Linked DNA regions of Homo sapiens: region 2 is linked to region 1. Evidence: fine-mapped QTL for protein levels in blood plasma. A gene starts in region 1. The other region holds a variant in brackets. All regions are shown on one strand. Distances are from middle to middle. Region 1 holds the start of TNFAIP6 (TNF alpha induced protein 6). Region 2 overlaps NMI (N-myc and STAT interactor).

What was found. A credible set is the group of variants that fine-mapping cannot tell apart. PIP is the posterior inclusion probability: the model's chance that the variant is causal. Sun 2018 read protein levels with aptamers (SomaScan).
Region 2: its variant is the best candidate, but not a certain one, in a credible set for the plasma level of the TNFAIP6 protein (Sun 2018, PIP 0.71).

Annotation. Positions count from the first base shown.
Region 1 is chr2:151,352,350-151,360,883 of GRCh38, reverse strand. TNFAIP6 (TNF alpha induced protein 6) reads right to left here and starts at 3,292. Exons shown (of 6, transcript NM_007115.4): 1 at 3,124-3,292. The coding sequence starts at 3,217. The region is part of intron 2 of LOC101929319 (a long non-coding RNA gene); the gene reads left to right.
Region 2 is chr2:151,272,502-151,276,499 of GRCh38, reverse strand. It overlaps NMI (N-myc and STAT interactor), which reads left to right. Exons shown (of 8, transcript NM_004688.3): 5 at 636-742; 6 at 830-1,016. Among named protein-coding and RNA genes, the nearest start is that of RBM43, 13 kb to the right of the region's middle. The variant G/C (reference allele first, on the strand shown) is at 2,969.

The sequences.
Region 1 (8,534 bases):
TACCTCTGTTCCTCTCCCTTCTCCCACCCTCAGTAATTTTTCTTAAACTTTTGGTACCTACTGAAACTTGTCTAGTAATAACATAATAACAGAAATAGCAAAAAATTTTTGTTATAATTTCTGATTTAATTTATTAAATATTAACATTCCACATTGTTCCTCTAATAGCGCCAAACTTCCCAGTATGTTGCCATATGAACAAATAGAGAACTCTTGGAGTATGTACCTGACAATTTTAAATAAGGTGTTTTATTAAAAATATTTCTCAATTCAGAATTTTGAGCTATTAAGATGGACCTTTGTACAATGAATCCTAATTTTACCTTTCAGAAGCAATAATATTTTATTAATTTATCTAGTCAATAGTCATTTATTAAAACTGAAAATTTGTTTAATAAATGTTTTCTCCTTTTAGTGAGTGGCGGCAGTAGAAATGGACTTTGGTTCCACTGCTGTTTCTACCATGGAGTTGTATAACCAGATGAGCCTCAGTTTCCTCATTTGTCAAATGGGACTAATGATAGCTTCTGGACCATAGAAGGAACTCAAGATACGTCACTTTTCCTTTCTTTCTTTTTTTTTCTCTGAGACAAGGTCTCACTCTGTCACCCAGGCTTGAGTGCAGTGGTGAGGTCACGGCTCACTGCAACGTCTGCCTCTTGGGCTCAAGTGATCCTTCCACTTCAGCCTCCTGAGTAGCTAGGACTACAGGCATGCACCACCACACCCAGTTAATTGTGTTTTTTTTGGTAGAGACAGAGTTTCTCTATGTTGCCCAGGCTGGTCTTTTTAATTCCTGGGGTCAAGCAATCTGCCCACCTCAGACTCCCACAGTGCTAGGATTACAGGTGTGAACCACTGCATCCCACCTTCCTTTCCCTTCTTTTTCAGATTCAACAATAAAAATAATTGCTTATCTGTGCATTTTTTATTCTCATGATCCATGTAAAATGATTGTAATTTCTTGTCCTTAACTGTGGTTTGTTTTTGTTTTAAGTACTATTTTAAAAATTAGATGATACCAGAGTTAAAATAAGCCTTAGGGATCCTTTACTTCAACCTTATCATTTTACCAGATTGGAACCATAACCTAGAGAATTTAAAGTAAACTTGTCCAACTTGCGGCCTGCCAGGACGGCTTTGAATGTGGCCCAACACAAATTTGTAAACTTTCTTAAAACATTATGAGTTCCCTGGGCCAGGTGCGGTGGCTCACGCCTATAATCCCAGCACTTTGGGAGGCCAAGGTGGGCGGATCACGAGGTCAGGAGATTGAGACCACCCTGGCTAACATGGTGAAACTCTGTCTCTACTAAAAATACAAAAAATTAGCCAGGCGTGGTGGCGGGTGCCTGTAGTCCCAGCTACTTGGGAGGCTGAGGCAGGAGAATGGCGTGAACCTGGGAGGCGGAGCTTGGAGTGAGCCGAGATGGTGCCACTGCACTCCAGCGTGGGCAACAGAGCGAGACTCTGCCTCAAAAAAAAAAAAAAAAAAAATTATGAGTTGCCCAAGACAATTCTTCTTCCAATGTGGCCCAGGGAAGGCAAAAGATGGGACACCCTAGATTTAAAGTGTCCTGTTCTTGATAGTTGCTAACAGATGTATCCCTTCTAATCCAACTATCTTTCCTTCCTAAATGGTTTCTAAAAAGATTATATTGATCCAACCAACTATAAACATCTGTGCTAGGCTGGCTGGTCAAAAATTTGCCCCAGATTGAAGCAATTTGCAATTATCCTGACCCTCAGATTTGTAGCATACATTAATAGACGTTTGAATTTGCTTCTCTCTACCTCTGGGGCAAAACTTCTATTGTCCAGGTTTATATTTTTGTAACATATGACAACACTTTAAAAGACAACTCTAAATTACTTGATTATTAGAGGGTTTGATAATATTTCAAAGTTTATCTGCCTGGATTTAATTCTTACTAGCTTTATGACATTTAAAAAAAATCCTGACAAATATGAGTGTATTTCCTATATTTGACTGTATTCAACTAAAATAAAGAGATGGGCTCATTCCTCTACTAAATTTCAGATCCCGTCTTGGCCAAATGGATCACAGTGAAATTAGTTCACTGGCTCAAGCTGAAAAAAATAGGCGGCAAGGCTGTGCATTACAAATTAGGCTTTTTAATGAAATCCGCATGGTTGCAGTTATTACCAGAGAGAAACATGCTGAAAGGGAAAATATTCTACAACTGTGCTGTTTAGAAAGCATAAAATCAAAATCTAGGTTAATTTCGCCTTCTCTTTATTTCTTTATTCTATGCAAGAATCTATGCATTTTTCCCCAAGAAATTCAATTTTTTTTTACTATTAAACACAATAATGAACATAGAGCAATATCAATTTGTATCATGAGAATTAAAGCATTGTTTAGCATACTGTAATCTAAGGGGTGTTTTGGATTTTCTGCATTTTCCTTTTTTGATCTATTGTTTATCTTCACTGTTTGGCCTGTCTCATTCCTTACATTTAACAAAACAAAATAACAAAAGAAACTTTCCTTGTCTAACAAAAGGGTCAGAAAAGTATTTATATGGATAGTAGAAACAGAAAGAATCAAAGTGGTAAGAATGCATTCAGAAGGAGAAACATTTTTCACTTTTTTCTGTACTGCAAGCTGGCTTGGTCAAAATAGTCAAAATGTTTGAAAAAACTAAGATATAGACTATAGCTCAGAGTCCATGAAGCAATTATTATAAAATTTTCGTAGACTCCAATTTACCTGTTAGGATTCTGAAATCTGATTGCAAATGCATTGACATAAAAACAGAAGACTATATTGGAGTTTCTAGTTGGTTAAAGAAATACTCCTCACTGTACTACTACATCTGCTTTGAAAAGTTTAAAAATATATTTTCATACTGAATATAAATATTAACTGCTATTTTCTACTGAACAATTCACTTTATAAAATGCTATTTTTAAATTTTAGAGGACAAGAACGCTTAAAAAAAAAAAAGCGTATGTATTCCAAAGGCTATCTTTCCTAAGCATTTTCTTTGAGAACATCAGCCTTGTACAGAATAGAAAAAGTTACTGCTTTAAATTTCCTTCTCCATGATTTAAAGAATTGACATTCTCAACAAGAGGCTCATGAGTGAAGGTTCTTACCAAGCCATATGGAGTTATGAAAAATTCCATCCTTGAATCCCCATCCTTGAGTGTCTTCCCATAGCAAGAGAAATAAGTAAATTAAGATGATCATATCGTCAGTTGTAGTGAAGTAACAGCCTGTTAGGGGCTGCTCACAAATTCTCAGAGCAGTGGCTGAAATGTGACTGAAACATCTGGTTTCCACATCTTTTAAATAGTTTTTTTCAACTGTGAGGTCAGCAAGTACTCTCCAATGGCATTTTCCGCTGTAGAGTTACACAATTATCTCAGTGTCTGAAGCAAATCCTCTGACTCATTTGCATTGGCAACCAAAACTAAGGAGATAGAATGATCATCTATGTTTTAAAATTAACTTACTAAGAACGGAGTTCATTTATTGTTAGTCACAAACACTTTTCTGTTAGAAAGTTTGTGTAACTTGATGCAGATTTAGCAGTGATTAAAAGAAAATCGAACTTCAGTAGGAATTTCAAGATAAATCCTAAATGTCTTATTTGCAGTGTCAATTATGGGATATGGGGTTAAACACTAATCTTTTATTGGTAATGTTGGACTGGCTTTTCTAAACATTGTCAAGCCTGTGTAAAAAATTTAAAACAAAAAGTATGCACAGCTTGGAGAATCCTAATTTTTCTCCAGTGATATATGACTTCCTTATTCTCTGCCTGCTTTTCTTCCAGGGTGGGGTCTGTTGCAGTCTTTGGTGTGTTATGGTCAGCAGCTAAATAAATGTATCAGCTCCCAGAAAAGTATTTCAATTTCAGAGCGTCAGGATGTTCCAGCAGCTTTGGGATGTCCTATTATAACACAGTTTTCCCAGGCCACAAATTCTTGAAGTGTTGGGAGAAAGGTGGGTAGACTAACAAAGTTAATAAAAACTTGTCCCTAGCTTCCCTAGACCACTCTAACTTTGAAGAAGACGATCAAGGTAATAGATAATAATTATTACAGTAAAGTCATCATGTCTTCAAATATCCCAAACTTTCCTCTTCCTTTGTGTAGAATCCTTGGGTAACATATCTGATAATACTCCCACTACCGCTGATGCTAATGGCATTTCCTATTGTTCATTGATAGCCATTTATTGGCAACTTTTGATTTTTTTACAAAATTGGTCATTTTTTGCTACTTAGATTCTCTACTTTTGGTCTCAAATTGCTTCCCATTCACTCCTATTATAGCATTCATTTCTCCCATGCTTTCTTAGTCCCTCCAATGATGTTGGAGTTCTTTGAAAAAGCCAACTTGCTAGACATGCTCTGGTTTGAAGTTAGCTTTGAATCCCTTAGACATCTTTGCTTTGAACATCTCAGGTGTGTTCTGGTCTCATCTCTTCTCAAAAGAGCAGTTATGGGGATGTAGGCTGAGAGTACAGAATTTATTGGATGCTCACTGAGGTATACATAAAGTTACTAGCATTGAAAATCTTTATTTTGGACTGGTGGCACATGAAAGATGAGGGAATTGTATCCAAGTTCACAGATAGGGTTAGTGAATTTAAGTTTGTTGCAAAAGAGAAAGGTATAGTTTAGACCAGGTGGGTGTGACTATGGAGAAGACAGGCATGGTTACTGAGAGCAAGATTCATAGGTAGTTGGAAGGAATAAACCATGATATTTCTTTGGAAAGTATAATTATATGCGTATTTTAAGTTTGTGGTTTAGGAAGTAAATATAACTTTAGTTGTGCAGTGCTACAGCAAAACCTTCCCATAGTCTTTCCAATTCTTTTCTTGTCACATCCTCCAGCTGTGCCCTTTCTGCATCTCTCTCAAGCACCTAATTTCCCCCTAGTTCTCATTTATCAAAAATTACTCTCAGGAAAGGGTTTGCAATTAATCTTTAGTTAGGCCAGATAACTAAGAACAGATACCCTTCTGTGTTCATTTGCATTTTAATGAAGCTCCAAGTAGAGCGAAGTGTGAATGTTCAACTTCTTTTAACACGAAAATTTAATGAGTTGCTTTGATGAATTAACCCGATCTGGGGTGGAGGATTTCTTTCTCCCCTCTCCCAACTCTCATGCAGAATATAAATATTTCCCCTTACCTCTGCATAGTGTCTGAAAATCTCATCCTCCATATCATCAAGGAAATAGAGAATAATGCCTAATGATGTAAGTTCTGATTTTGAGGGGCATTCAATAAAGGAAAGAGGAAATGGGGTTTTCATATGGAAAAGATGCAGAGGGTAATCCTGAGGACGAGAGAGAAGAAAAGAGAGAGTAGCAAAGGAAATGTTGCCTATGAACTTACCTTGGAAGTTGTCTAAGAAGCACCCTCTGCCCAGCCTCCAGCACACACCACCCAGGATAAGCCTCATGAGGAGCTGAGAGAAGATACACTGATAAAAGTTCCTTTCAGGCCGGATGCAGTGGCTCATGCCTGTAATTCCAACACTTTGGGAGGTCGAGGCAGGAGGATCACGAGGTCAGGAGTTTGAGACCAGCCAGACCAATATGGTGAAACCCCGTCTCTACTAAAAATACAAAAATTAACTGGGTGTGGTGGCTTGCTTCTGTAATCCCAGCTACTCAGGAGGCTGAGGCAGGAGAATCGCTTGAACCCGGGAGGCGGAAGTTACAGTGAGCCAAGATCGCGCCACGGCACTCCAGCCTGGGTGCCAGAGCCAGACTCCATCTTAAAAAAAGAAAAAAAAAGTTCCTTTCAAGGTTCTGGAAGACTTAACCAGTCAAGTATTTTGCCTTCTCAGAGGAATGCCCTCCCCTTCCACTATCTCTGGGTCAAGATGTGCAGTGGCTCCTTTCGCACATATCACCACTAGCTGAAAACCCAGCAAGACTGCTTTTTGTAGAGGAGTTCCTGTTTTGGTTGCTTTTCTACAATGTTCCAATGCCCGTAAGCCTAAGCAGCTATTAGATACCTAAAGGCATGGTGGAGAGAACTCCATATCTGAATTGGGATAGGGCTGCACTGAACAAGCTTAAGATCTCTTAAGCTGCCACGATAGTTAATGATGTCACTATTGCACAAAGTTAACTGAAAAAATGAGACACTAGCCAGTGTGGTGGTGTGTGCTTGCAGTCCCAGCTATTCAGGAGGCTGAGGCAGGAGGATCACTTGAGCCTAGGAGTTGGAGGCTTCAGTGAACTATGATCATATCACTACACTATAGCCTGGGCAACAGAGCGATATGCTGTCTCGAAAGAAAAAAAACAGCAAGAGAGACGCTAAAGTAGAATTTTAAACATCTATTAGCAGTTAAGAGGAAATATTTTATATCCTTTTGACATGCTGAGTCTCAGCTGACAGGAAAAAGGGATGGAGAAGTGTCAGGTGAATATAGACAGGAGAAAAAGAAAGAGAGAAGGAAAACAGGTTCTAAGACAACATGTCTGATTATACTTAAGACTGGATTTGAATGGCAAGATGTGCAAAAATGCAATTCTTTGATACACTGTATGAAAATTAAAATATAAATTATATCCTTTATTAAGCATATGTTGCAATCTTGGAAAGAGCAGGAAAAAAACCAAGATGAGATTAGCAAAGGGTGGAGCTCCGTGAATCACAAAATATGTCAATACAGGACATTTTTAACACTGCCAATAAGGACATAAAATTGCAATACAGGAATGCCCCACCCATCCCAGAATCTCCACATGGACTAGGATAGGAATAAAAGCAATAAATGAAGAAAAACCCATTCCCCTTGAGTGTGACTTAAAATGATTGGAGAGAAATTCTTATGTGTGACATAGAACATACTTAAAGAAATGAAACATGTGGCATTGTACTCGTTCATTCAATAATCAGTGCAAACTTTTACAGGGTCAGTGAGCAGGATAGAGCCTAACTAGAACAATGGGAAATCTTTGGAAAAGTGAAATATTTATTTATTTATTTTTTTGAGACAGAGTTTCGCTCTTGTTGCCCAGGCTGGAGTGCAATCACAATCTCGGCTCACTGCAACCTCCACCTCCCAGGTTCAAGCAGTTCTGCCTCAGCCTCCCGAGTAGCTGGGATTACAGGCATGCGCCACCATGCCCGGCTAATTTTGTATTTTTAGTAAAGATGGGGTTTCTCCATGTTGGCCAGGCTGGTCTCGAACTCCTGACTTCCAGTGATCTGCCCACCTCGGCCTCCCAAAGTGCTGGGATTATAGGCATCAGACACCATGCCCAGCCTATTTAATTATTGTATATCAAAAAGCTTTGAGACAGTGAATATGAGCCTATGTACAACACCGAATGGAATAATGCACTTTCAAGTTTATGGGTAAACAGATGTCAGAAAGAGATCCAAAATTGATGTCGGACTTCCAGTTGTTAATGCAGTGTGACAGTTGTTAGTAATCTTCACCAAATATTTCCAGCTTGTCAACTTCCAGCAAACATGATAGCATTGTATGTGTGTCCCTCTGTGGTTTGGTGGAACCATGTGATTATTTTTGGCTAATGAGATGTGAGCAAAAATTATGTATGTCATCTTAGAGTGAGAATTTGATTGCTAATGCTCCAGAACTCTTTCCTTCTGGCATGGCGGGAAACATTTGTGATGACAGCTGCTCTTTCACCCTGATTCCAATTGATCCCTGGATTTTATATAACATGAATGAACTATAAACTTTTGTTATTTTACGTTATTGAGATTTTGGGGTCATTTATTACTGCTAGCATAACAATCTATCCTGATTTGTAGGAAGAAGTGAGCTAATATAGATATTAAAACAAAGGGTAAGTTTAAAAGGTTAGCAGTCTAAGGACATTCAGATGCAAAAACTAAGACAAGAAGGAGAAATACGAAGAGGAGGAAATAAGAATGAGGAAAAGAAGACAGTGATTAATGGATTTAATATTCTTCCTCTGCCCACCTCCCAAACTCCTAATAACACACAGCTCCTCGATCTATGATTTGCCTCTCCAAATTTATTGACCAGTACCCCCCCCATATGCATTTATTCCAATCAGACTGCTTCCTGTTCCTCTAAGTCTTGAAAACATGTCTTCTTTCCTTGCCTCTTGTCTTCTCTAACTAGTCAGGGAATCACCGAACTCAGTGTTAGAAACCAAGAGATCAGCTGGCTCAAATTCTACCTGTTGTAAATCACTGCTATGCTGCCCTTATTTATTCATTTATTATTTGAGAAGTGAGGTCTTGCTATGTTGCCCAGGCTGACCTCCAACTTCTGTGCTCAAGTGATTCTCCTGCCTCAGCCTCCTGAGTGGCTGGAACTATAAGTGAACATCATCACACCTTCGTAACCTGAAATCCTTAAAACTTTGGCTCATCCTTAAACTGAGGCCTACAGAGTAAGTCTTACTTCCATCGGCTTTCAGGAAAAATTTCTATGACCTATGAAGCCCGGAGCAAAGAATCAAGCACATATATTTGAAAACAAATTTAAAATATGCTCACTTAAAATTTCCCTTTTAAATATTTTTACAAG
Region 2 (3,998 bases), 82 kb after region 1:
ATATATGAATTCTGGAAGATTGTTAGGCTTATCTCTTAAGAGATAAGAGAAAAGATTCATCTTATGAGAAGAATCTAGAACTTGAGAACTTCTACATTGTGATTTTGCTGATATACTTTGACATTAATATATTCTACTTTGGGACCAAGAGCAGTGGCTCATCCTGATAATACCAGAACTTTGTCTGGGAGTCCGATGCAGGAGGATTGCTTGAGTCCAGGAGTTCCAGAGCAGCCTGGGTAACAAAGTGAGAGCTCGTCTCTACAAAAAGTTAAAAAAATTAGCTAGGCGTGGTGGCATGCACCTGTAATCATAGCTATTCTGGAAGCTGAGGTGGGAGGATCTCTTGAGCCCAGGAGTTTGAGGTTACAGTGAGCTATGATCACATCACTGCATTCCAGCTTCAGTGACAGAATGAGATCTGGTCCTCCTTCCCCCTGACCCCCCAAATTATATATTCTACTTTGGTAGCAAGACCATTATCACTTGGAATCACCGCCCGCCAAATTTTTAAAATTAGACCCTTTAATATTAAAGAAAATTAAAAATATTCAGGATAATTTGTTCTTAAACCAAAAGCATAACAATTCTTAAAATATTGGAAATTAATACTTCCTTCCTGAATTATTTTTCAGTTGCTCAAAATGTGGTAAGCATGAGTAAACATCATGTACAGATAAAAGATGTAAATCTGGAGGTTACGGCCAAGCCAGTTCCATTAAATTCAGGAGTCAGATTCCAGGTAACAGGATGATTAAAATTTTTTGGATTTCTGTTCATCACAAGCACTTCTCTCATCCATATTTCTGAACATCAAATCATTTTCCAGGTTTATGTAGAAGTTTCTAAAATGAAAATCAATGTTACTGAAATTCCTGACACATTGCGTGAAGATCAAATGAGAGACAAACTAGAGCTGAGCTTTTCAAAGTCCCGAAATGGAGGCGGAGAGGTGGACCGCGTGGACTATGACAGACAGTCCGGGAGTGCAGTCATCACGTTTGTGGAGATTGGAGGTACTCAAGGGTGTAGAAGGTTAACAGACACTCTGCCATTTCAGTCATGTTCTGTTGTTTCTGAAAGTATTCCTATTCTACTTCTTTTATTTGGAATGTATTAGCATGATAATTGGGGATTTTAAAAAACCTTATAAAATAGTAGAGTGTAGGAAATTATTTCCAGGGACAGTACTAGGAAAGATAATATTGCTACAAATAGGCAGGGTGCAGTGGCTCACCCCTGTAATCCCAGCACTTTGGGAGGCGGAGGCAGGCGGATCACTTGAGGTCAGGAGTTCAAGACCAGCCTGTCCAACATGGCGAAACCCCATCTCTACTAAAAATACAAAAATTAGCCAGGCATGGTGGCAAGTGCCTGTAATCCCAGCTACTTGGGAGGCTGAGGCAGGGAGAATCACTTGAACCCAGGAGGTGGAGGTTGCAGTGAGCTGAGATCACCAGGCATAGTGGTGCGTGCCTGTGGTCCCAGCTACTCAGGAGGCTGAGGTGGGAGGATTACTTGAGGCCAGGAGGTTGAGGCTGCAGTGACCTGTGATTGCACCACTGCACTACAGCCTGGGAGACAGAGTGAGACCCTGTCTCAAAAAACAAAATTAAAAAAAAAAATTGATGGATTAGATTTTTTCATGACAAAGTAATACATGCTTTTTTAAGGAAGGTGAAATAATACAGAAGAGCAAACATTTAGTAAAAATGAGACATTTCGGCCGGGCCCGGTGGCTCATGCCTGTAATCCCAGCACTTTGGGAGGCCGAGGCAGGCAGATCATGAGGTGAGGAGTTCGAGACCAGCCTGACTAACATGGTGAAACCCCGTCTCTACTAAAAATACAAAAAAATTAGCCAGGTGTGGTGGCGCATGCCTGTAATCCCAGCTACTCGGGGGGCTCAGGCAGGAGAATAGCTTGAACCCAGGAGGTGGAGGTTGCAGTGAGCCGAGACTACGCCACTGCACTCCAGCTTGGGCGACAGAGTGAGACTCCGTCTCAAAAAAAAACAAAAAGAGACATTTCCTCAAACTTCCCTTTCTCCTACTATTTAGTTAGTTATGGTTATTTGGGTGTCTTTCCAGGCTTTTCTCTGGGCACATTAAAACATGTCAATATCCTTTTTTTTTTTTTTTTTTTTTTTTTTTTTGTGAGACAGAGTCTTGCTCTGTCGCCCGGGCTGGAGTGCAGTGGCACTATCTCAGCTCACTGCAACCTCCGCTTCCCGGGTTCAAGCAATTCTCCCACCTCAGCCTCCCGAGTAGCTGGAATTACAAGTGCATGCCACCATGCCTGACTAATTTTTGTATTTTTGGTAGAGACGGGGTTTCACCATGTTGGTCAGGTTGGTCTCGAACTCCTGACTTCAAGTGATACGCCCGCCTTGGCTTCCCAAAGTGCTGGGATTACAAGCATGAGCCGCCGCTCCTGGCCCAATATGCATTTTTGACCTGAGCTTTTGGATGATGTTTAGGACATCCTGGTGGGATGTGTCAGGGAGAGCTATAAAAGGAAGGGGTCTTGAGGGCTACAGTAATATGTTGTCTTGGAAATGAACAATAACTTGGTGGAAACTTCCATAGTCAAGCATCCAGATTTTAATTTGCCAAATTCATATATTCATTTAGCCTGTTTGGTGTTAGTTTGTCTATATCTTGGATTTTAAAAAATCTGGCCAGGCGCAGTGGCTCATGCCTATAATCCCAGCACTTTGGGAGGCGGAGGCGGGTGGATCACTTGAGGCCAGGAGTTCAAGACCAGCCTGGCCAACATCGCGAGACCCCTTCTCCACCAAAAATACAAAAATTAGCGGATGTGCTGGCTCACGCCTATAGTCCCAACTACTTGGGAGGCTGAGGCAGGAGAATTGCTTGAACCTGGGGGGTGGAGGTTGCAGGGAGCTGAGATTGCATCACTGCACTCCAGCCTGGGTGACAGAGTGAGACTCGGTCTCAAAAAAACC[G/C]AAATAAAATAAATAAAATAAAATAAACTAGAATGCAATTTATAACTCTACTGTGAGAGATAATACTAGCTTTGGAACCTGTGTCCTTGGGCCATCTGGGGATGTTCTCCTAGAGGTTACATCTAGCCAGATGGGAAAAATACTTCTGCAGGTTATAGGTTATCCAGCAGGTAACTACTGAAGGATGTGAAGGTATTCTGGAGATAAATATGCCAGATACTTCATAAACTGTGTCTTACTGACTCATCACAATAATCTACAGGGTAGGTACTGTAATTATGCTTATTTTACAGAAAAAGAAACTGAGGCTTTAAGAAGTCAAGCAACATATCCAAGGCCACATAGCTCATAAGTAGCAGAGCTAGGACTGAAGCTGGTCTATTTGACTCAGGACCTGTACTCTTTTTTTTTTTTTTAACTGTGATAAAATATATATAACATAAAATTTACCATTTTAACAATTTTTAAATGTACAATTCAAGGGTACTAAGTACATTCACAATGTTGTACAACCATCACCACTATCCATCTCTAGAACTTTTTAATCACCCCAAACTGAAACTCTGTACCCATTTAACAATAATTCTCCATTACCTCTTCTTCCAGCCCCTGGTAACCATCATTCTACTTTCTGTCTCTATGAATTTGCCTATTCTAGGTACCTCATTCAAGTGGAATTATACAATATTTGTCCTTTTCCTGTCTGTCTTATTTTGGTTAGCATAATGTTATCAGGGTCCATCCATGTTGTGGTATGTATCAGAATTTCATCCTTTTTAAAGGCTGAATAATATTCTCTGTGTGTGTGTGTATTTTATATATCCATTTTGTTGATCTGTTCATCTGTTGGTGGATGCTTGGGTTGCTTCCACCTTTTGCCTATTGTGAAAAATACTGCTCTGAGCATTAACGAGCAAGTATCTGTCCGAGTCCCTGCTTTCAGTTGTTTCGGGTATATACCCAGAAGTTGAATTGCTGGATCATATCATGTTCTATTTTAATATTTTGGGGAACTGTCATACTGTTTTCT